Homo sapiens: one gene and its partners. The protein of the gene in region 6 purifies or fractionates together with the protein of the main gene of each other region. This does not show direct contact. Each region holds a gene or a part of one and is shown on either strand. Other genes may lie near its edges.

Region 1 (3,500 bases), on a different chromosome or scaffold from region 6:
GCATGGTGGTGGGCGCCTGTAGTCCCAGCTACTCAGGAGGCTGAGGCAAGAGAATTGCTTGAACCAGGGAAGCAGAGGTTGCAGTAAGCAGAGATAGTGCCACTGCACTCCAGCCTGGGCAACAGAGTGAGACTCTGTCTCAAAAAAACAAAAAAAAAAAGAAAAGAAAAACAAAGTAGAACATAAACAGTGGCTTAAGCATTAATTCCTTATTTCTTCAAAACAACTGGTAGATTAAAGAAGAAAACCATTTTTCCTTAGAAAAAAATAGGTGCTTGTGAATGACAACAAACTTAACGTCGTAAATTTCAGAAAAGATACCTTTTAATCAGACATGAGTTTCTGCTTTCCATATCTCCCATTGCTCCCAACACTGCCAGGGCTTGCTCGCCAGTTAGGTCCTCTGACATCAATAACATAGTTGATTTAAGTCTAGAAGCAAAAAAAAAAAAGTTTTTGGTTGAAAGACTGAAAATTAGCTTGCAATTTTTTTTAAATAACAGTTCTTGGGTAACAAATAGGAAAAAAAATATAAACAAAAACTGAATCCAATATATAATTCTAGTGTTCTCCCCACATTACTCGAATATAAAATATTACTGAATAAAGAAAAATATATTGTCTTCTTCAATGAAATTCAGGCCTCATTATAATCCAATCTTAAACTGTTTGAAAAATACAGGTAAAAGATATTTTAAGATTTTCAAATAATACAAGGTTATAATGGTTATAAAATACTATGATTCAGTGAAATTATTCAATACTAGAGAGCTAAGAAATGAACAGTTGATATTCTGACAATTTCCCAAATGTTTTAAAACTGAATAGGAACATCTAGGAGTCAATAAACCTGCATATTATCAGAAATCTCATATACTAAGCACTTGATATAACAGTATAAACTGAAAATTAACAAAGCTGGTCCATTTTGACTATGATTAGTTGTCATTTGAACTATCCAAAGTAGTGCAGTAATGTTAAGTACCATGATACGTGTATTTTTTAGAATCATTTAGAAAGCAAGCTCGAAACGTGACATCTGATAGGATAAACTAATTGTCTATTCACATGGATAACTCCATGCCATCCTTTCCACCAACCTTTTCAAAGGTTTCAAACCCAGTTTCTCCACAAACTTTTCCCAACCACTTCAGTCTATATTTTTCTCTCACTTCTGTCTGCTCACAGCACTATCCATATCACTAATTTTATTGTTTCTTCATAAACTATGTTGTTACAGTATTTACATATTTCAATTATATCTATCCTCTCAATTGCAATATAAATTCCTTGAAGACAGACTCAGTTAAACCCAACTGTTTTATTGCTTTAGCACTGAGATTTTAACAGTACTTGGTGACAAAAAACGGTTCCAATAAAGTTTGTTCGTGTGTGTGTTTCTTCGTCTGTTTTGAGATGGAGTCTCACTCTGTTGCCCAGGCTGGAGTGCAGGAGCATGATAGCTCACTGCAACCTCCGCCTCCCAGGTTCAAGCGATTCTCCTGCCTCAGCCTCCAGAGTAGCTGGGATTAGAGATGCCCACCATTGCACCTGCCATCACTCCCGGCTAATTATTTTTTGTATTTTTTTGTTTGTTTTTTGAGACAGAGTTTCGCTCCTGTTGCCCAGGCTGGAGTGCAATGGCGCAATCCTGGCTCACTGCAACCTCAGTCTCCCAGGTTCAAGCGATTCTCCTGCCTCAGCCTCCCAAGTAGCTGAGATTACAGGTGCCCACCACCACGCCCGGCTAATTTTTTATATTTTTACTAGAAACGGGGTTTCACCATGTTGGCCAGGCTGGTCTCGAACTCCTGACCTCAAGTGATCCAACCGCCTCAGCCTCCCAAGGTGCTGGGATAACAGGCATGAGCCACCACACCCGGCCCTTTTTTTTTGTATTTTTAGTAGAGTCGGGGTTTCACCATGTTGGCCAGGCTGGTCTCAAACTCCCGACTTCAAGTGATCTGCCAGCATTGGCCTCCCAAAGTGCTGAGATTACAGGTGTGAACCACCGTGCTGGGCCCCAATAGTTTTTTTTAATAATCACCTTGTTTCCATCTTGATATAGTCTTAAGATGTGCTCTTAAATTTTTTCATATAATTCAAAGTACTTTTTTTTTTTTTTTGAGTCAGAGTTTCGCTCTTGTTGCCCAGGCTGGAGTGTAATGGCGCGATCTTGGCTTACTGCAACCTGCACCTCCCGGGTTCAAGCGATTCTCCTGCCTCAGCCTCCCGAGTAGCTGGGACTACAGGCGCTGCCATCATGCCCGACTTATCTTGTATTTTTAGTAGAGACGGGGTTCCTCCATGTTGGTCTGGGTGGTCTTGAACTCCCGACCTCAGGTGATCCACCTGCCTTGGCCTCCCAAAGTGCTGGGATTACAGGCATGATCCACCGCACCCAGCCACAAAGTACTCTTAAAAAATAAAACTTTCTCCGTAAAGTTTTCCCTAACAGAGTAATGATACAGATTCCCCTATTGTGCAAGTCTTGGAACCCCTGCTTAAGTGAATCTACTAATCATACTTATGTGTTAGGACTATTATATAAAATTCTTATTTTTTTCTTTTATTTTTTCTTTTGAGACAAGGTTTCATTCTGTGCCCAGGCTGGAATTCAATGGCGCAATGTCAGTTCACTGCAGGCTCAACCTCCTTGGGCTCAGGTGATCCTCATGAGTAGCTGGGAATCTAGGTGGGCACCACCACATCTGGCTAATTTTGTATTTTTTTGTACAGACAAGGTTTCATCATCTTGCCTAGGCTGGTCTCAAATTCCTGGGATCCAGGGATCCACCTGCCTCGGCCTCCCAAAGTGATGGGATTAAAGGCGTGCAACGCCGTGCCCAGCTTGTAATTCTAAATATTTCATACAATTATGCTGGGTGGGGGAAGTTTATGTCTAGTATAAATCCAGTCACATGGCCTAGGAAGAGAAACTCTTATCTATTAACCGTATTTGTATGTTAATTTAATATTTGCTCATCATTATATTTCAAATATTACTACCTACATCAGTATCTAGCAAAACTGGAAATTCCTAAATGAGAGGCGCCACACAAAATTTGCTCAAACCTGACATGGGAACATATGCCCAGTGCATAATAAATGCTTTGATGATTATTGTGATGAAGACAGCAAAGCATAAAATGGCCCTCTGCTATGACTACTATAATTCTAAATATTCCACAGACTTACACTGGGTGGGGGAGTCTTATATGTGTAAATCCAGTCATGTAGCACAAAAGGGAGAATAAAAACACATGGCGTTTCCCCTCATTTTTTTTCATGTTGGCCCAGTATCAGAGGTTTACCTTTCAGAACACAGCAACAGACTAAGAGTTTGAGATGTAAATTAGAATAATCAGAAAAAGAATCAAGGAGCAGAGCATAAGAGATTATTTTCCCTTCCACAACCTAATAGGGTGATATTTGTACCTTCCAGAGCTGCAAGGAGACCTAAGCTTGAAGGCTCCACGTATTCACAACAAAAAAAGTAA
Region 2 (3,500 bases), on a different chromosome or scaffold from region 6:
AATACTAAAACTGTGACAAATAGATGTATTCACAAGGTAAGAAAATAACACAGTAGAAGTAACTAACTTAGATGGTCATAATATATTTCCTGGGAAAGGTGACTCTGGAACTATTTTGAAGAACAATTATATCTTTTATAAACAATAAGAAAAAACATGCAAGAGAGGAAGAAGCCATACTAAAACACAAAAGCACAAGACAGTATTATATAATAAATAGTTCTGCATTGTTGGAAAGTGAGGTGAGACAGAAAAGTGGCAGGAAATGAAGCTTAGAGTCCAGCAGATCCAAATCATGAAGGTATTATCATACCTTCAAAGCAGCTTTGGTTTTATTCTCTAAGAGAGGGAAAAAATAGACTTTCATTCAAGAAAGGTTACTCTAGTTAAGCATGGGAAAAGACTGAAGAATGAACAAAACCAAAGAAAAAGGTAAGCCAATTGAAAGATTATACTAGTTGAGGAAATAAATAATCATGATTTGATTTGCAAGAATAGTGGTGGGAGATCGAGAAAAGAGTACAGATTGCAGGGATATTAGGAAGTATAATCAACAAGTCTTAGTGACAGATTAGATTCGAGAATCTAATCCTTTGAGGGGAAAATCTAAGCTAACTCCCAGGATTTTAGCTTATAAATTTAGTAGCATGCTGGGGTTACTACCATAAATAAGAAATACAAAAATAACAGGCTTCTCTATTTGTCTTTTGTTTTGGGTAGGAGAACTAAGGGGCTGATGTTGGAAAAGGGCTGAGGAACAGAACGCTGGCAATGCTAAGATGCACGCAGGAAGAAAGAAAAAACAGCCCACAAGACTGAGACGGCATAGTCAAAAAGGTAGGAGAGAAACAGGATAGACTGGTGTCATGAAACAGTTGTAGACAAGTATACTAGGAATACAGTTCCATGAAAGCATTCTCATCAATGGCTGTATTAAGTAGAAAGCAAGTCTAGCTGCTGAGAGAAGGACTGGGAGACTTCCACTTCGAAGCCCTCTGACTACTCCTTCTCATTTCTCAAGTACTTCAAAATAAGTACCTTGGCAGTACTTACTCTGTACGACACTCTTTTATAAACATTTACACAGTACTATTTTTAAAAATTGCTCATGTTTAGAATGCAATCTTGAATACAAGGACCAATGCCTTCATGGTGCTTGGCAATAGTCCCAAGTACCAAATATGTGTTTACTGGGTGACCAGCAGAATTTCAATATGCATATTTGTTTACACACACTAGACCAAGAGCCTCTCAGAAGGAAGGGCTTTTCCATGTATCTAGTTTCCCCAGGATCTTGCATAATATCTGGAAAGATGAGACTTTAATAAATATTGACTGAACAATTAGAATTAATGCAGTAGTGACAGCTATTTCCTGAGGCAATTTGGTAAGATTTTGTAATTTTAAAATAGAATATGTGTACATTTTTGTTGAACTGTTTTTCATATTAACACTGGAGAAAAAAGACACCTGAACATTCACTAAAAGGCACTGCTTAAGTATCAGGAAGAAATGCTTTACAGAAGTAGCAAACCAAGTAAGCACACAGGGGAATTTTTAAGTTTATAATAGTTAGATTCATGGAGACGGCAAACAATTTCATTTTTCCTTATGGCATCTCTTTGAAAAAAAGAGATGGGCAACAAGAGAAAGGAAGGCAGCATGGTGACATTCACAAAGGAAATAGTCCAGGAGCAGGCAGGTATCACAAAGCTTAGTGGGAAAACTGACTTCACAAGATTAGGATCCGGTACACTAGCCAGGCTGGAAGAGAGGTGATCACCTCATCAACATATAAAAATGAAATCAATAACAAGAATAGTACATTTGTAAGCCAGCTGGAAAAAATGTAAGACCTATAAAGGAGTACTGATAGCTATTAGAAGTTTCATATTTTAAATGTTTTGAGTTGTCACATGATTAGAAAATATAATGGGGGGATGTCATGAGCTAAACAGTGCAAAATTGCACAGATGATACCCATCAACAGCACTTATAATATGGTGACAAATTAATTTATATGACAAGAGTGGTTGGGCATTACAGGAATCTAGTTGGGCTAGACTGCAATGAACAAGGGGGGCTGAATAGGAGCCTCGTGAATTAGATCCATGAGAACTATCCTCCATTTTACTCATTATAAGGTGATAAACCCACGGCAGGGGTGGCACTATACTGGCAGAGAGATATTCAATAACATTTCTCCTTAAGCTATGACACTTACAAATCTATCCCTTGTTCTATTATTTCTTTTTGTTGCTTTAGGACCTCAAATTGTTCTGGATTATCAGTGCCAGACATCTGTGTACTGTAGCTGCCTATTCCTGATGATGATGTTGACTCCAGGGAATTTAAACTTCCGTATCTGTTTATTGTCTCAGGGTGTTTGATTTCACTCATCTCTTGCTCTGAGGGTTTTTCCTGACCTGAAAGAAGAAAAATTGATAGAGTACATTATTCTATCAAAGAAAAAAAAAAGTGTAAGGGCAAACAAATTCTTGAATAAGGCAAGGCGTTTCAATGTTGCTTAGATATCTATTTAATACAAAATAACTATTAGGTAACATAGTAAACAACATACTTTGATATTAAAACACACTGTAATTTGTACGTGTATAGTCTGCACCATTAGGAGGAGTTCTTTTTGCAGTTGCAGTGCTGAGTATCCACTGGATTTCTGCTCTCAGCTCACTCCTCATGAGGAATTGTTTTCGATAATACCAGTGTAGCCCTGCAGCTATGAGTTTTTCTCTGAGTGAGGGTAAACATCAAACACAGATGAACAATTCAACCTTCTTAAAACATACTGCCTTTTATATGTTTCCTCTATAATTATAATACAAGAAAGTTGCATAAATATGCTTCATTTTACATAATCAAAATATTTCTAAGAAGATTTAGAAAAAAATAGTTTGGATAACTAAGTTAAAAATCTCACAATTTTAAAGCTAGACATTTAACTCACAGAGAATGTTTCCTCATCAGTTAAATGAATAAATATGTCATGAAATTGGTTTAACAGCAGCTGCAACTATCCTCCAAAGTATTATTCACTTAAAATGACAAAGAATTACAGCTCAAAATATCACCTTACCAAGAGTTGTCTGGGAGTTGGGATTCACATACTGATCCTTACTCCATTCAACCATACACTTCAAAATCGACACTAAGCATTCTAAACCTTTTTTCCTCAGGCTCAATTCCTACAAAGTAATTCAAAAACAAAATTTTTTTTAAAGGTCTTTTAAGGAAAACACATGACTCTTTCCTGGTAAAGTTTAAATTTGAAAATGTTTTTATAGTTCTTACCTGAACATTACTCATACCAAGTTCTTGACTGCCCCTTCCTTGAGCAATTTTTGATAGATCATTTACTAGTCTTTCAAATATATTGGCTGCATTTAAGTCACAGTCATAGTTTACATAAATATCCACTACACTCTGAGCATCTGTAACAATATAACATTAATTTCAACAAAGTACATCTAGGATATGAGTAC
Region 3 (3,500 bases), on a different chromosome or scaffold from region 6:
CTTTTCCTTACGGTAAATCTCACTTCCACTCACAGCACACAAAGAGAAAAAATTTCCTCCATCTGTTAGAAAACAAAAGGTCTCTAAAGAGCAAAATATTTTCATTTAGCAGATAACTATGACAAAATACTTAAAAATAACATTTATTCATTGAATTCCTTTACAGCACATGATCAATTGTTTGATGTACAAAAAGTATCTATGACACTAGTATTAAATTAAAATTAATTTTAAATTTTACCACAATAAATGTATACATAGTATAAGGAAAACTACAGATGCTTTCAGATCACCAGTCTAGAACATATTCTGCAAAGTGGCTAATTCACATTATATTTTTCTTTTAATACTGAGTTCCATAAAAATGCAAGTTCTTCCATTGTTTGAGTTCTGAAGTCAGTATTCATTCTTGCAACCAATGAACAGTGTTTTGAGAAAACAGTTTTCTTTGTAAATATTCCACCAATTCACGTCTTGATTTTAGCATCCCAATCTCATGATAGGGGATCTGTAAAGGTAGAAAAGTAAAACTGGTCAAGATCCTTCAAAATCTGAGGTTCCTCTGGCTATTGGTTACTTTGTTTGTTTCTTACACGCTTCCCCACAGCGGAATGTAAGCTCCTGGAAGGCAAATATCCCAACCAGCTTCTTCATCCTGTATCCCCAATGTCTAGAACAGTGCCTGGCACTGAGAAGGGGCTTGGTAAATATTTGATGAATTAATATGTAGAATATGCAAATAAGAATTAAACATGATCTCTTGTTCTCCAGGAGTTCACAACTTGGGTGGCAAGTTAAATTACACAATAAATATAAAAAACAAGCTGTAGGTTGGTGATCTAGTGCTAAGAGGGAGTGAGCATTTCATTAGATGAGGGTGGGGATGCCGACAAACTGCTGGAAGGTAGGTATTCAGAGAGCTGGAGGACGCAGCAGGGACAAAGAGGGAATGAAGAGGGAGAGAGCAGGAGGCGCAGCAAAGGAGAGAGTCTGCTCAGCTGGGAGCAGAGGGGCCAGGTAGTAATCATGTGCCTGCAGCCTGGCTGCAGGCCAACCATTGGAGGGTCTTGAATGTTAAGATGTAGAGAAGTTTTTACTTTATTCTGTAAGCAGTAAAGAAACATTGAAGCTTCTGAGTAGACACTGGCATGATTAGTTTTAGGAATATTCAGCTGGGGATGTGCAAGATGGAGAAAAAAGTCAGCAGATATGAAACCACAGTGCTGCCTAGTACTGACAGCTTAGAGAATTAGGGCAGCGCTCATTCTCACGCACTGCTGAGCCCTCACATAAGACCTTCTTACATTATCTACAGTGAAATATTTAAAAGGTCTTAAATATTAAGTGTTGGTGAAGCTCCTTATTTTAATGGATTATCTTGTTCATTTTTATTTATTAAATCAAGGAGAAATTAAAACAGAACATATATTCCAACAATTGAGTAATTCTAAAAGCAGGGTTAAGCATAGCTTATAATGAATATAGGTAGGCCCCACTTTTGAAAAATCAAAGCTCTGAAAATTCTGTATTTCAAAATATAAGTCAAGAGATTTAAGCCGAATTAACAACGTTGGGATTTAAACTAGACGTAAGATCGGTGGTCCACTGGGCTGGCAAACCAGTTAGTACTGTAAAAGCAAATTAAAATGGAGCCTGTGCCTGAAAAATCCCTGAGCAGACCAAGCCAGTTGGGCCTTGAAAATAACCTTAACTTTGCTTAAAGTGCAAATGTTAAGCAAAATTTAACTTGGGCTATTTCTTGTAGAAGCTTCTACTACAGAAAAACAGAACTTAAGCTCAACCAATCAGAAGCATCTCACAAACTAATAATTATATAACTAGGAACTTTCCACAGAATAGTTCAAACAAGGCAGCAAGAATATGTAACTGTAACCAGTCAAGTAGATTCTTTGTGTACTTGTGTTCTTCCTATAAAAGCCTCCCTCTTGGGTTCCCAAGCCATTTCGAGTTTTGTGCTGTCCAGTTCAATAATTGCTGCCTGATCAAATTCTTTAAAATTTTACTGTGCCTCAGATTACTTTTTAAAAGTAACCTGGAAAAATAATTTTGAAATAGGATTTGCTTTTGGGAAACAAAAAAAATAGGTGAAACCGTACCTGAACAACTTGATAACCGAGTAACTGTAGGTGTCTTTGTTTAATAGCTTCTTTCCCCAGTAAGTGTTTGCTATTGGAGCAAAACCTTTTTGGACCATCAATACACAGTGCTATCCTGAAAAATAAAAAAGGAGAAAAATACTTAATTTTTTAAATAATCCAAAATATTTATTATATATTTTAGTTGCCAAAGTTTATTTGGGATTTGGCTATTACTATGTGCCAATATTATTTTCAAATGAATCATGAATTTGATCTTATTAATATTAATGTTTATAAAATATTACAAGGAATTTCCCAACATGGTATTCTGAAATGTAGTATTTTAATTTCCAGAATCATATCTATTTTTTTCACCTTCTTGAGAAAAAGATACCGCTGCTTATTAGCCTCAACGAGTCTTGTAATGTGAAAAACACAACATTTTCCTGTACCTTTTATGGATATCTTCATTAGCTGTGGATGGCAATACAAATCCTTCTTCATCTAATTTAATTTCAACATCTGGTGAGAGAAGAAAGGAAAAATTCCTCGTGTGATACCCTCACAAACACTATCTTCCTGTATTCATTCCTTTGCTTTGCTTTGATTCCTTCCACCTTGCATTGATCAATTGGACTGAAGGCTGCAAAGTAATGACCACAACCAAACAATGGTGAGAATTTTAATTCAATTGGCTTTATGATCAATCAAGTCAGCCTTAAATTAAGAAAGCTCAATAACGCTAAACCACAGAATGGGTTCTGAAGTTATCTGGGGTATGACAAGAACCATGCATGCTTTCTCTTTCCCCTTATGATAGGTGGCAGAGATCCTTCAATCCAGACTGTGAAGAAAACCCTTGAGTTAAGACATTAGACATCTGTGCAACTCATAACTTCCATCATTCCAACTTGCAGTGCCTCCATGGTAAGTAAAGAAAGCATGCCACACCCAGACACCTGGTCTGCGAGCACGGAAGGCTTCCGAACTGTCCTTCCCCTCTGGTAAACTGCAGTTCCCTTCGTAAAGAGAAGAGAAGTGACCATCTGAAGCCTATGAACTGCTGTCCTTTACGAGAAGGCTTTCTTCTGCTCATCAAGTTAGAAGAACTGTAAGGACGGAGGACTTGGAGTCTCTTGTCAGTGCTGTCCAGGAGAAATTTCTGTGATGTGGAAATCTTTATAATGGTGCTGTCCAATTTGGCAGCCATGAGCCACATGTGGCTACTGAGCACTTACAATGTGACTGAGGAATTGAATTTTCTTAAACTTTTAATAATTTAAATTTAAATAGCCACATGGTCTAGTGGCTACTATATTTGGACAGTACAAGCCTAGGTTATAGTAGTAGCTAACAATTAGTGAGCATTTCCTACGTTCCAGGTACTATTTTATTTAGACC
Region 4 (3,500 bases), on a different chromosome or scaffold from region 6:
TTAAATTGTAAAGCTTTTAGTAAAACATGTACTCTTAATTTATAATTTTAATTTTGGGTTTTACTCATAAACTCTCAGTTCAGTACTTCTAAATGCTTTTTTTCAAATGACTAAAACAAGAATGCAAGGTAACATTTGTACTATTTTTACTTTTCGACATCAAAAATGTCTGTCAAGATTAAAAATAAATCAGTGTCTGTGTTTAAGAATACTGAGAGCTGGTTTGAAATATTTTTCAAGGAGTTCAAAAATATGTTTTGGCGTGACTGTATTGCTCTTGCTTTTTTCATATTTTAAGTAGTATTACTTTCATTCTTATGACACTGAACCTGTTTATTCTGATGATCTAAGATATTTACAAATGAAGTGCATATCTAGTAGCGTGCAAAGTTTTTTTTTTCAGGTCTTTATTTGAAGAACCCAAATTCTCAAGTTTTACCATATGTGAACTGTTTTGAGAAGTAAGAAAAACAAATATCTTTAGTATACCACATTTGTTGTTCTAAACTTGAGTATGTTTTGATGTAGGGCCTAGGTTATTTTATTTTTTGCCCAAGGCATTCTAAGAAGTTTTATAAAATGTTGGAATTTTACCAATTTCAATAAAGTATGAACAAGGTCAGGCTAAATTCTGCTTACAGTTCTGTTTGATTTTTAAGTACATTCTAAGTTGTCTAGCGTAAAAGACAATAATATTCTGAAATCTGTGATTTGGTAAATACCATATGTTGAAAATAGACCTATAAATGGTTCTTCATTGTGTAAATATTTAACCTTACTTGTGCTGATTTATATTTCAAAGACTGTGCTTCCTTTCCTTTGAACTTTCAGGACCCCTACAAGTCTTTTGGTTTACCATCTATTGGGAGATTGTCTCAGTACCAAGAACCGTTACATCTACCTGGTGTAAGTCATTAAGCTGTAATACCAGCTGAAGGGTTAAAATCGTGATTTATGTCATACTTTTATGTTAAAGCATGTCAACACCAAAGGGTGTAAATTGAAGGACAAGTGAAATTCATGGGAATCATGGTTTTTGTGTTGAAAACAAATTTTTTTCAGTATTTTGTGGTGTTCAAGAAAGTCAGGATTCACTGGACAGGGGAAGCCTGGGGACATCTGATGATATAAATGATAGCTTACAGTGTTCCCAATTCTTTCGAAAATTATAATAAAAAAGGCTGTGAATCCTAAGAATGAGAAATGATGTTTTGTGTTACAATTTAATCTTTTCAATAAATCGAGTCCAACCCTGCTATATAGTCACTTGTCAAGAAATTCAAGCACAAAATCAGCTCCTTAATTGAAATTTAAGGAGATTGAATTAAGGCAAACAAAGTGTGCCTCAGTCTATTAAACCTCATGGACTTTAAAGAGTAATAATATTTATATCAGTTAAATAAAAGTGACCACTGTCCATTTTATTCCATAGCTCTTCTGTATTTAATAGCTATTTTGAAAATAGTTTTTGTTGCAGAAAAAGAGCAAGGACATACCCTTTTTCTTAATCAAGGTAATAAGTGCATATATATATATATATATGACATTATGTTAGCTAGTAGATGACAAGGCTGTACCATCTGTGAATATTCAAATTATTCATTTTGATTACTGGCATGAAGATGGTGAAAGATTACAGGAAGAATTCTAAATCTGAAGATATTATTGGATATATGATTTATTTCACTTTTTAAATTGTTTTTGCCCATGTGCTTTCTAAAGGGACTTGACCCTTTCTGTGCTTGGAGACTCCATGCTGTGTTCAAAGCCAGAAGGCAGAAAAAAAATTGTGAAGATTTAACAGGCATTATGTGACGTTAAATAGCACATGAGAAAACAAGTATCATAGGGACATATCTAAACACTTTTTTAATCAAACAAAAGAAGTATTAAATAAGAATTCATAATGATTACTCTAGTTGTTAGAAGTTTTCACCATGTTGTAATAGCTAACAGGATGTCAAACATTTTGCCCTCGCAAGTTTTTGCAATTTGCAATTTTCAAACGTGAGACCTGTTGAAAGTACAAGTGATAATGGACAAACTATACCCCCTACAGTCTTCATCCCACCAAATCTTTCTTCAATTAATGCTGCAGCAGGAGTTTTATGTAATAACATTTGCAGTTGTGAGCCATCCATAGAAAGAAAAAACAATTAAAATGCCTTAAATGTTCTGCTTACTGCTGTTATTTGCTTGTGTGAATGTTGCATGTCAGCTAAATGGACCAAGGAGTAGATAAAGTGATTGGGTGCAGGAGAGTGCACACTAAGCTTTGTCTATCATTATTGCTGGGAGCAATCAAATTGATGTCAGCAGGACAGTAGATGCGTTGACAGCTGTAATTATGTATCTCCATGGTGATCACTTTTGGCCTGTCATGGAGGCCCATGAGTCCCCTCCCTTGGAAGCATTTAATCAGATTGGGCTGTCACTTGTCAGGTAGACATGGCGGGCTGGGAGTTGTGCTTAGGGGGAGAGGTGAATTGAGAATGAAGGGTGGGAGATGTCTGATAGTTTCACAGAGTCCACTGTGGTACTGAAGACAGAAATTTTAATTATGCTAGAGGTTTCTGAGCAGTGGTTTGAGAATCTCGTACAGAGGTGCTTGGGTGTTTTGTTGTGGTTGTTATTGTTTGTTTTTCTTCCTTGTCTTATTAAAACTAGAGCAGTCAGTTTACCTTAGAAAACAATTTTTGGCTCTTACCTTTTTTGGTCACAAGAATGCATACTTAAGAGTTAACTTATGGTTTGTACTTTTCACATGCTTCATTAAGCCTGAGATTTATTAATATGGCAGAGGTGAAGATTTCCTTTTTTATTTTTGATCATCATGTTTTGTAAATTTGTTATTTTCAGACCACAGTTTTGTTCTGCTCAGAAATTTGGTTCTGATTTCATTTGAATTTTTTCTTAAAGTTTTTAGTGCAAATTTGTATAGCCTTTCATTGAAGGAATGGAGACTTGATCTGACTTCAGATTGGTTGTTAAGAAATAAAAATATAGCTGATTATTACTTGGAAAAAGCAGCATAAATAGTAAATTATAAAGCAGAGTTTTCATACTGTGGTACAGTTTTTAATTGGGAATACTGATTTGCTTATACAAAGATACGTGTTTATATATATCTTGATTTTATCGTATGTATTTTAAAGTTAAGATGACATAACTTCTGTGATCATAATATTAGTAAATAACAAAGACAGTTATATTTAATTAAGATCTGTAGGTAACACCTTATAGGATGATATTATTCAAGGCAACTGAAGTTTTAAGTAAGGAACTGTAGAAGAACATAATAAATATTCTTTATTGTCTATGTTATTTTATTTGTGGGTTGAACATCTAAGTTCTTCCTAGCTTTGTAGCAGTTTATGTAGCAAATGATAGGATGTAGTTAAAGTCAGAAGTTTTAGAACTTGTATCAGTCTCGTTTGTAAACACAGCATTAGCAAGCATGCTGTGGTTTTAAAGATGACATAGTGGTCAAATTAGCTCTT
Region 5 (2,675 bases), on a different chromosome or scaffold from region 6:
GACTCGGGACCCTGAGAGCCCTAGAGCTCAGCAGGAGGTCCATTTGCAATTCAGCTTACCTTATCAGCAATTCCAAATAAAGTCAGGTATTCAAATAGCAGCTTTAGGTCTCCCAGGCCCTCCAGGGCCTGCTTGTTCTGGGATAGTCTGGGATCCTGAAACATTTGCTCTACTAGGGATACCCCACCTGGAGAGAAATAAAGTCTCTGCTGTTCACTCACATGTGTTTCATTCAAAATTATCCCTAATGTGCTCTAGCTAGTCTTCCTCATTTTCTTTAAAAAAAAAAAAAAAAAAAAAAGATCCCAGTCTCACATGACAAGACCCTCCTCCTTTGCCTCTAGCTTTGCCATCTGAAGACACAAAGTCGTTACAATAAGTAAAAGAGAAATTAAATTCAGGACAGGCCCTGGAGCTTAGCATATCTACAGAAAAGAGTTGTTTCAGAGGTAGAATTTGAGCACATGTCACCTTCAGCCTGGTTCTATCACAGCTCTGAAAACCCTGGTTCTTACCATGACACTGGACATAGTCCCCAATTCGATCAGCCACCTCAGGAGCCAGGCCTTTCTTCACCACCATCTCATGTCTCACATCTTTCCAAGCCATCTGCATAAACACCCAAACATTAGCCCAGCCCCAAGATCTTTCTTTCTCAAACTGAAAAAGGACAACTCAACTTCCATTCAGTATATACATCACAAGTAGCTAACTGTATACTCAGCAAAGTCAGAGACAGCTTAAGAAATCCAGTCACAATCCCCACTGTATAGCATGACTCAGATCTTCCTTCAGAGTATGCCTCCTTACCTTCCACCCCAAAATAGCCCACTTCCAGCCACAATCTCCTTATTTTTCACTAGTGGTATGGATTTGAGGGCAGGGCAGAAGCTAGATAGGGTCTACTGAAGTATGTCTTCTTTGTTACCTTGTCTAGTTTATCTATGGAGGAGCAGATGGCACGGAACTTGCTTTCAGGAACACCACAGACAGCAAACATCCCATCCACAATCCGCCGGTCATTTACCTGAGAACTCAATGTCAGTGACCCAAGTGCTTGTCAATGCCCTTCCACTCAAAACAATGGCAGTACCTACTTTCCTGACACACAAAAAGGATGGAAATTTCACAGGAAGAGTACAGACATATAGGAAATACAACAGCTTTACTAGGAAAGTCCTACAGTTGCAGGCTTAAGGGTTGGAGTCACCCAAGTTTGGGACTTGCATAAACAGTATTAGGCCAAATCCAGACTTCTCCCACAGTTCTCAGCCCTGGCCTCACCTTAATGAGAAAGTCTCCCAACTGCAATCCACTTAGGATTTCACACATGATCTTCAAACACTCTGCATCGGGGATCATAGGGTCAAACTGACCAGCAATGTCAAAATCCTACAGCAAAGAAAAAGATGGGAAAAAACATCCATTATCCAGCCAGTTTCAAGGTTGTGGCCCCTAGAACTATCAAACTGTGCTGCTCCCATCAGGTCACTTACACACTGGCAGAACTCCCTATAACGGCCTTGGACTATGGTTGGGCTCTCTCGCCGCCACACCTTTCCAACATGATAACGTTTCATCTTCTTCACCTTATTCATGGCCAGATAACGAGCAAAGGGAACCTCACATAAATGGGTTAAGGAAGAGGGATACTGCATCCAAAGATTAGGCCCAGTATACAGACATTAGGGAGGACTGGGCCTGGATCTCATCCACTAGGGTAAGAACAAGGACCTTCCCTTTTTTCCACTATCCCCAAGGCCTAGCAGTGCTTGGAATTCAATATATATTGAATAGTGTCAAATGAAGGAATCTCACCTAGCAAAACTAAAAGTTCAGCAGAAAGCAAGGCAAGTAGAGATAGAAGTGACCCAAGAACTAACTTCAGGTCTTTCTGCCCATTCAGATCGATTCCGAACCATCTCAAAATAGTCAAGCTTCAGAACTTGGATTTGCCTAACAACTTCTAAGCTACTGGTTCTGAAAGTGCAGGGAAAGGACTACATGCATCTTAATTACCCACGATGCTTGTTTAAAATGCAGACTGTAGGCCAGATGCAGTGGCTCACACCCGTAACCCCAGCACTTTAGGAGGCCAAGATGGGAGGATCACTTGAAACGATGAGTTTACAACCAGCCTGGGCAACAAAGACACCCATCTCCACAAAAAAAATTTTTTTTTTGAGACAGAGTTTTGCTCTTGTCACCCAGGCTGGAGTGCAATGGCGCAATCTCGGCTCACTGCAACCTCTGCCTCCTGGGTTCAAGTGATTCTCCTGCCTCAGCCTCCCTAGTAGCTGGGATTACAGGCACCTGCCACCACAGCCAGCTAACTTTTTACGTCAAAAGAGATCTGTGGAGACAAGGTGACAGTCAGTCCCAAACTAGACTCAGAACCTGAGAGCCCCAGAGCTCAGCAGGAGCTGAGTAGAGATGGGGTTTCACTATATTGGCCAGGCTGGTCTTGAACTCCTGACCTCAGGTGATCCACCTGCCTCAGCCTCCCAAAGGGCTTGGATTACAGGCGTGAGCCACGTGTCTGGCCAAAAAAAACAATTTTTTAATACAAATTATTGAGCCCCATTCCAGCTACAGAATTAGCTAAGAATCTCTGGGACTGCAGCCAAATGTCTGTGCTTCTGCAAGCTCCCCCAAAGGATTATGATACACACTAG
Region 6 (3,500 bases):
TAATCCCAGCTACTCGAGAGGCTGAGGCAGGAGAATCACTTGAACCCAGGAGGCAGAGTTTGCAGTGAGCCGAAATCATGTCATTGCACTCCAGCCTGGGCGACAAGAGCAAAACCTGGTCTCAAAAACAAACAAACAAACAAAACCCTACAGATTGAAAGCGGGAACTATAGCCTATATTTCTGTTATTTTTCTTTCATAGCCAAGCTCATTGTTAGGGACAAAGTAGGTGCTCAGTAAATTCTTACTAATAAACGAGTTGATAAATCAGGCCTAATCAACATCCATTTATCATTCTACAACTTAGCTCTCATAACATCTATTATATTATAATGAATAAACTCACATTTTCTAAGGTTCTCTTTTTCTCTAGAGCTGTGGTTTTCAACTGCACATGATTTTTGCCTCCTAGGAGACATTTGACAATGTCTGGAGACATTTTGAGTTGTCAGACTGGGGTGGGCAGTTGCTCCTGACATCTTGGAGATAGAGGCCAGAAATGCTGCTGAGCATTTTTCAAGGCACAAGGTAGTCCCCACACAAAGACTTATCTGGCCTCAAATGTTAATACTGTTGCTGTTGAGAAGTGCTGGTTTAGAAAGCAGCAACATTTCAAAAGCGACTGACTGAATGGTTGAGTCCATTTCTCTTTTGGAAAAATCTAGAAGGCTTTCTTACCTAAATACACTTCATACAATACACCCATTAGGGCAGAAGTCACAGGGTCAGAATCCACAGGCCAAATCTGGCCTTCAGTTGTATGTTTTTTGGCCAGCATGGTGCTCAAATTTTTTTTTTTTTTTTTTTTTTGAGACAGAGTTTTGCTCTTGTTGCCCAGGCTGGAGTGCAATGGCACAATCTCGGCTCACTGCAACTTCCGTCTCCTGGGTTCAAGCGATTCTCCTGCCTCAGCCTCCCTAGTAGCTGGGATTACAGGAATGCGCCACCACGTCCAGCTAATTTTTGTATTTTTAGTAGAGACAGGGTCTTGCCATGTTGGCCAGGCTGGTCTTGAACTCTTGGCCTCAGGTGATCCACCCACCTCGGCCTCCCAAAGTGCTGGGATTACAGGTGTGAGCCACTGTGCCCGGCCCTCAAATTTTTAAAAATGTGTTGCCAACATTAAAAAAAGTGCTTTTCTGGAAAGATCTAGATTTCTGCCTTATCTGGAACAATCAGAAGATCTGGCAATACCACCCTCTCCTTACCACCTGATTGAGGGGACATGTAAAATATTGAGCAACTGTGCCTGTTATTCCAGCACTTTGGGAGGCCGAGGCAGGTGGATCACGAGGTCAGGAGATCGAGACCATCCTGGCTAACATGGTGAAACCCCATCTCTACTAAAAATACAAAAAATTAGCCGGGCGTGGTGGCATGCACCTGTAGTCCCAGCTACTCGGGGGACTGAGGCAAGAGAATCGCTTGAACCCAAGAGGCGGAGGTTGCAGTGAGCCAAGATCGTGTCACTGCACTCCAGCCTGGGCAACAGAGTGAGACCCCGTCTAAAAACAAAGAAAAAAAAAATATTGAACAACTGGCACAGAAGGGAAGTCACTGAGAATGGACATTGGACCATCCCAAATAAATGCCATAAAAGACACTGATAATCCCCGGGGCTAGACACCAGCCCTGCCATTTGCACCATCTGCAGAGCTAACTCCTAGGGAGATGAGCACTCTCCTGTCCCTCCCTTTTGTCTCCCAATTTCTGAGTCCTTCTCAGTTGCTTCATTACTTTGTGCTTACTTTAATATTTTTCTTATTAGATTGAATGGGAATTGAAATCTTTCTTGTCTTTAATTTTTGATGAAGACATATTTTGATCTTCATCAAAACTGGTAAAATAAAAATTTAGGACTGCTTGTTTCAATGAAAACAATTTTTTTTTTTTTACTAGCTTGCTTTGCTCATTAGGTTATATGCCTAGCACCTGTAATTCTTGAATTCAGGGTCCCTGTTTTGGCTTAAACAAGCTCTTATTGATTGATGTCTTTTAGAAACGGAGTCTCACTCTATCACCCAGGCTGGAGTGCAACGGCACAATCATAGCTCATTGCAGCCTTGACCTCTTAGGCTCAAGCAATCATCCCACCTCAGCTTGCATGTGGTAGCTGGGACCACAGGTACACGTCACCATGGCTAGCTAATTTTTAAATTTTTTGTAGAGATAGGGTCTTGCTATGTTGCCCAGGCTGATCTCAAACTCCCGGGTTCATGCAATCATTCCACCTTGGCTTCTGACAGTCCTGGGATTACAGGTGTGAGTCACCACTCCAGCCAAGTTCTTTTTTAAAATGCAGAAATTCAAAGGTGCCAAGAACATACATTGAGGAAAGGACAGTGTCTTCAATAAATGGTGCTAGGAAAACTGGGTATCTATATGCAGAACAATGAAACTAGACTCCTATCTCTTGCAATGTACAGCAATCACATCAAAATGGATTAAGGACTTAAATCTAAGGCATCAAACTTTGAAACCACTAAAAGAAATCACTGGGAAACTCTCCAGGACGTTGGTCTGGGCAAAGATTCCTTGAGTAATACGCCAAACCACAGGCAACCAAAACAAAACTGGACAAATGGGATTACATCAAGTTAAAATGCTTCTGCACAGCAAAGGAAACAATCAACAAAGTGAAGAGACAACCCACAGAATGAGAGAAAACGTTTGCAAACCATCCATCCGACAAGGGATTAACAACCAGAACATAGAAGAAGCTCAAACAACTCAACAGTAAAATATCTAATAATTTGATTTTAAAAATCTAATAATTTGATTAAAAAAATTAAATGCAAAAGATCTGAACAGACATTTCTCAAAAGAAGACATAAAATGGCATACAGGTCTATGAAAAGGTGCTCAACACCACTGATCATAAGAGAAATGCAAATCAAAACTACAATGAGATGTCATCTCACCCCAGTGAAAATGGCTCTTATCCAAAAGATAGGCAATAACAAATGCTGGTGAGGATGTGGAGAAAAGGGAACCCTCATACACTGCTGGTGAGAATGTAAATTAGTAGAACCAAGATGGAGAAAAGTTTGGATCCTCAAAAAACTAAAAACAGAGCCACCATATGATCTTGCAATCCAACTGCTAGATATATACCCCAAAGAAAGAAAATCAGTATATCGAAGCGATCTGCTCTCCCACATCCATTCTAGCACTGTTCACAACAGCTAAGGTTTGCAGGCAACCCAAGTGGCCATCAACATATGAATGGATAAAGAAAACATGGTACATGTACACAATAGAGTACTATTCAGCTGTAAAAAAGAATGAGATCCAGTCATCTGTAACAACCTGGATGCAACCGGAGGTCATCATGTGAAGTGAAATAAGCCAGGCACAGAAAGACAAACTTTGTACCTTCTCACTTATTTGTGGAAATTAAAAATTAAAATAACTGAACTCATGGAGATAGAGAGTAGAATGATGGTTACCAGAGGCTGGAAAGGGTAATGGGTGGGGTGGGGGAAAAGGGGATGGTTAAT
Region 7 (3,500 bases), on a different chromosome or scaffold from region 6:
TATTAAAAATACAAGCCAGGCGTGGTGGTGGTCATCTGTAATCCCAACTACTCGGGAGGCTGAAGCAGGAGAATCGCTTGAACCCAAGAGGTGGAGGTTGCAGTGAGCCGAGATTGCACCAGCCTGAGCAACAAGAGTGAAACTCCATCTCAAAAAAAAAAAAAAAAAAAAAAAGAAGGAAATAGGGCAAAGAATGAGCAAAGGCCCAGTATTTCACTTGTTACAACTAAAGTGAAGAGAGATGCCCCATGCTCAAGCAAGTTAGAAGTGGGATGAGGCTCATCATTCACACATGCATTCATTCATTCACTGAATAATGATTTTGTGCTGGGGCTAAAATGGCAGGTTAAACAGATGTCTTTTGAAAGTGAGAGAAAATCAAACCAAACAAGTGTGCAAATATATACACTGTGAAGAAATAAGGTAGTATAACACCTGCAGTACACCACTTGCTAAAACAGTCATACTCAGGGGCAATAAATGAAAGGTGATTAAGCAATAGGCCTGATTTAATTTTGGCCAATACAAAGTCAGTGAACCTGTGTGTAATCACATACATTCTGCTTTCTTGTCCCAAGATTTAAAAACATTATTTTTAAGACTTCGATTTTGGGGTAAGCTCCAGGAATTATATAGAATGTCTAAGAATTTGTTATCTATGTATAAAATAAAGGCCTGGCTGGGCACAGTGGCTCACGCCTGTAATCCAAGCACTTTGGGAGGCTGAGGTAGGTGGGTAACTTGAGTCTAGGAGTTTGAGACTGGGCAACATGGTGAAACCCTGTCTCTACAAAAAATACAAAAATTAGCAGGGCGTGGTGGCATGTGTATGTAGTCCCAGCTGTGCAGGAGGCTGAGGTGGGAGGATCACCTGAGCCCAGGGAGTTCGAGGATGCAGTGAGCCGTGACTGCGCCACTGCATTCCAGCCTGGGTAACAGAATGAGACTCTGTCTCAAAAAAAAAAAAAAGAAAAAAAAAAAAGAGAAAAACAAAAGACCTATAGAATTGCAGGTTTAGAGAAAAATAATTTTTTGTTTTTCCTGCAGAAGGGCTAAAAGCTAGATTTTCATATCTAGGTAGGCCTGCAGTTCATTGCTGCTGAAAGGCTAACAGTTTTAATTAAGGTCTGAGCTTTTAAATTATTATTAGAATTCTACATTAATTAATTAGAGACAGAGTCTTGCTCTGTCGCCCAGGCTGGAGTGCAATCTTGGCTCACTACAACCTCTGCCTCCCAGGTTCAAGCGATTCTCACGCCTCAGCATCCGGAGTAGCTGGGAATACAGCCACTATGCCTAATTTTTTCTTTGTATTTTTGGTAGAGATGGGGTTTCATCATGTTGACCAGGCTGGTCTCCAACTCCTGGCCTCAAGGGTTCTGCCTGCCTCAGCTTCCCAACGTGCTGGGATTACAGGCATGAGCTACAGCACCTGGCCAGAATCCTAACAAGAGGATGAAACAGTGATGAAATAACAGGGTTTTTTTTTTTTTAACTCAGAATCAAGGATAAGTAAGTACTGTAATTAAGAATGGGCAATGCTAATGGGGGCTGTCTTTGCACTAGAGGCAAAAATGGGAACTAGGCTAAACATATTAAGGTTCCACTGTTCCAGGATAAAATGTTCCAGCTGCCTCTGGGACCAGGCTTCACTTAAGGAGCCAAGGGACAGGAGTCCTAATGCTTCTCTGCTGTGTGGCACTGGACCTGTAAACTCTCTAAACCAGTAAACTAGGAATAATTTATAACAATAATCTATGTCATAAAATTGTTGCAAGGGTTAAATGCATCAGTGCTAGGTGTTCAATACAGTGCCGAGAAAAAAAAATTATTGTGTTGTCTTTTCAATAAAAATGCAAGAGGAAGGTCCTATTCAAGTTCCCCACAACTAAAAAGTATTGATTCTATGACAGGTCCATGGAGAAGGAAAGAAAATAAATGGGAAAATAACAGTGATCTGATTCCTTGATTTGGTTTACTTGTACTGCAGGGTTGTTAAGGAATCAGAGAAAAACAATCAAGTGTTAGAAGGCAAACCCTAAATACTACTGATGGTGTAGAGGGGCACATTCTCTATCATATGTGCTCAGGAAGGTAAAAGTCATCTTCCCAATACTCTTAAATCACACAACACTATCCACCTACTGTCATAGCTAGTCTCATTTCTGGGCTAAAAAAAAAAAATCTTTTCAAGTGAGACATTACATGTGAAGGTTATTTCTAAATGGTAACACATATGTGTACTATAGTTTTTGCTTCCTTGCTTATTTCATTCTACCAATTCAAATTATTTCCTTTAAGGGTTAGCTCAAGACTTTTCTCATAATTTCAAATCAAATTATCTTTCACTTTTACTGAATTAAAATATTGTTTATATAGTCTTCTGCCCTCTTATCACATTTATCTATCTAACCTGTAACTGTTCTCCAGTGGTTTCATTTATGAACGTCTTGTCTTGGACTATATCCCTTGATGCTGGGGATCAGAGTTTTCAATTTATTTGTGTTTTAACAAGTGCCCCATTAATTATCAAAATTCTTTTAACATTGTGCCAGCCTAAAAATCTTTCTTAAAAAAGAGCCATCTCACTTCTTATGGTCAATAAAGTCTTAAGAAAATAACTCAATCTCATTTGCAAAATATATATATCTATATAATGTATTTGTACATTAAATAATGTATAATCTGCTCTAAGTTTCTATGTCTTTCTCAGTCTTAGTAAATCATCCTGATCCTCCCTCCTCAGGTGATGTACTAATACTCATTATTTGAAGTGGTCACATAAAAAACATAAAGACTGCCGGGTGCAGTGGCTCACACCTGTAATCCCAGCACTTTGGGAAGCAGAGGCAGGCAGATCATCTAAGGTCAGGAGTTCCAGACCAGCCTGACCAACATGGTGAAACCCCATCTCTACTAAAAAGACAAAATTAGCTGGGCGTGGTGGCACATGCCTGTAATCCCAGCTACTCGGGAGGCTGAGGCAGGAGAATCGCTTGAACCCGGAAAGCGGAGGTTGCGGTGAGCTGAGATCACGCCACCGTACTCCAGCCTGGACAACAAGAGCGAAACTCTGTCTCAAACAAAAAAACAAAAAACAAAACCACAAAGATTTATGAAACCCTTTAATGTGTTAGTTTCTATGTAGATGCTGTAACAGGGAATACAGAAGCATAAAATGGACTCTGCTTTCAAGGAAATTACCTCCTAACAGGAAAAATAAGGCCTAAAAACAAGAAAAGTTAAACAGATAATCTATATAAGAAATGTCACTTCATCAGGGCAGGACTAGCTGCCATTTGAGGAATAAAAATGTCATGAATGTGGGGGAAGAAGGAATCACAGCAGGCAGGAGTTGCCTGTAAGTTCTATGGAGGAAAGCTAGCTAAGCCTGGAAGGAGGGTTTAGATTTGGATAAGTACACAGAAGACTAGAAGGGCAGGTATTAGGTTGGGAAGGTGACGTAAGCCAAAGGACAGAGGTGAAAAACTACACAACAT

The links.
Region 1: the proteins of LAMP3 (region 6) and FASTKD1 purify together in Homo sapiens (affinity purification with mass spectrometry; 2 studies listed by BioGRID and IntAct, with this or other methods). This does not show direct contact.
Region 2: the proteins of LAMP3 (region 6) and ARFGEF1 purify together in Homo sapiens (affinity purification with mass spectrometry; 2 studies listed by BioGRID and IntAct, with this or other methods). This does not show direct contact.
Region 3: the proteins of LAMP3 (region 6) and FASTKD3 purify together in Homo sapiens (affinity purification with mass spectrometry; 2 studies listed by BioGRID and IntAct, with this or other methods). This does not show direct contact.
Region 4: the proteins of LAMP3 (region 6) and PCCA purify together in Homo sapiens (affinity purification with mass spectrometry; 2 studies listed by BioGRID and IntAct, with this or other methods). This does not show direct contact.
Region 5: the proteins of LAMP3 (region 6) and HARS2 purify together in Homo sapiens (affinity purification with mass spectrometry; 2 studies listed by BioGRID and IntAct, with this or other methods). This does not show direct contact.
Region 7: the proteins of LAMP3 (region 6) and MARCHF5 purify together in Homo sapiens (affinity purification with mass spectrometry; 2 studies listed by BioGRID and IntAct, with this or other methods). This does not show direct contact.

What each region holds. Positions count from the first base shown.
Region 1 is NC_000002.12:169,556,866-169,560,365, forward strand, and holds part of FASTKD1 (FAST kinase domain-containing protein 1, mitochondrial), read right to left. Parts: exon of another isoform or gene 2,059-3,500; coding exon of another isoform or gene 2,048-2,058; intron 433-2,047; coding exon 322-432; intron 1-321. UniProt on the Homo sapiens protein: Involved in the down-regulation of mitochondrial MT-ND3 mRNA levels which leads to decreased respiratory complex I abundance and activity.
Region 2 is NC_000008.11:67,263,782-67,267,281, forward strand, and holds part of ARFGEF1 (brefeldin A-inhibited guanine nucleotide-exchange protein 1), read right to left. Parts: intron 3,450-3,500; coding exon 3,310-3,449; intron 3,204-3,309; coding exon 3,095-3,203; intron 2,427-3,094; coding exon 2,225-2,426; intron 1-2,224. UniProt on the Homo sapiens protein: Promotes guanine-nucleotide exchange on ARF1 and ARF3. Promotes the activation of ARF1/ARF3 through replacement of GDP with GTP. Involved in vesicular trafficking.
Region 3 is NC_000005.10:7,859,032-7,862,531, forward strand, and holds the end of FASTKD3 (FAST kinase domain-containing protein 3, mitochondrial), read right to left. Parts: intron 3,027-3,500; exon of another isoform or gene 2,920-3,026; intron 2,773-2,919; exon of another isoform or gene 2,743-2,772; coding exon of another isoform or gene 2,622-2,742; coding exon 2,552-2,621; exon of another isoform or gene 2,454-2,551; intron 2,233-2,453; coding exon 2,118-2,232; intron 509-2,117; coding exon 404-508; 3' UTR 128-403; downstream 1-127. UniProt on the Homo sapiens protein: Required for normal mitochondrial respiration. Increases steady-state levels and half-lives of a subset of mature mitochondrial mRNAs MT-ND2, MT-ND3, MT-CYTB, MT-CO2, and MT-ATP8/6.
Region 4 is NC_000013.11:100,302,093-100,305,592, forward strand, and holds part of PCCA (propionyl-CoA carboxylase alpha chain, mitochondrial isoform a precursor), read left to right. Parts: intron 1-831; coding exon 832-906; intron 907-3,500. UniProt on the Homo sapiens protein: This is one of the 2 subunits of the biotin-dependent propionyl-CoA carboxylase (PCC), a mitochondrial enzyme involved in the catabolism of odd chain fatty acids, branched-chain amino acids isoleucine, threonine, methionine, and valine and other metabolites.
Region 5 is NC_000005.10:140,694,455-140,697,129, reverse strand, and holds part of HARS2 (histidine--tRNA ligase, mitochondrial isoform 1 precursor), read right to left. Parts: intron 1,623-2,675; coding exon 1,497-1,622; intron 1,393-1,496; coding exon 1,285-1,392; intron 1,028-1,284; coding exon 929-1,027; intron 610-928; coding exon 516-609; intron 188-515; coding exon 60-187; intron 1-59. UniProt on the Homo sapiens protein: Mitochondrial aminoacyl-tRNA synthetase that catalyzes the ATP-dependent ligation of histidine to the 3'-end of its cognate tRNA, via the formation of an aminoacyl-adenylate intermediate (His-AMP).
Region 6 is NC_000003.12:183,145,735-183,149,234, forward strand, and holds part of LAMP3 (lysosome-associated membrane glycoprotein 3 precursor), read right to left. Parts: intron 1-3,500. UniProt on the Homo sapiens protein: Lysosomal membrane glycoprotein which plays a role in the unfolded protein response (UPR) that contributes to protein degradation and cell survival during proteasomal dysfunction.
Region 7 is NC_000010.11:92,343,167-92,346,666, reverse strand, and holds part of MARCHF5 (E3 ubiquitin-protein ligase MARCHF5), read right to left. Parts: intron 1-3,500. UniProt on the Homo sapiens protein: Mitochondrial E3 ubiquitin-protein ligase that plays a crucial role in the control of mitochondrial morphology by acting as a positive regulator of mitochondrial fission and as an important regulator of immune response.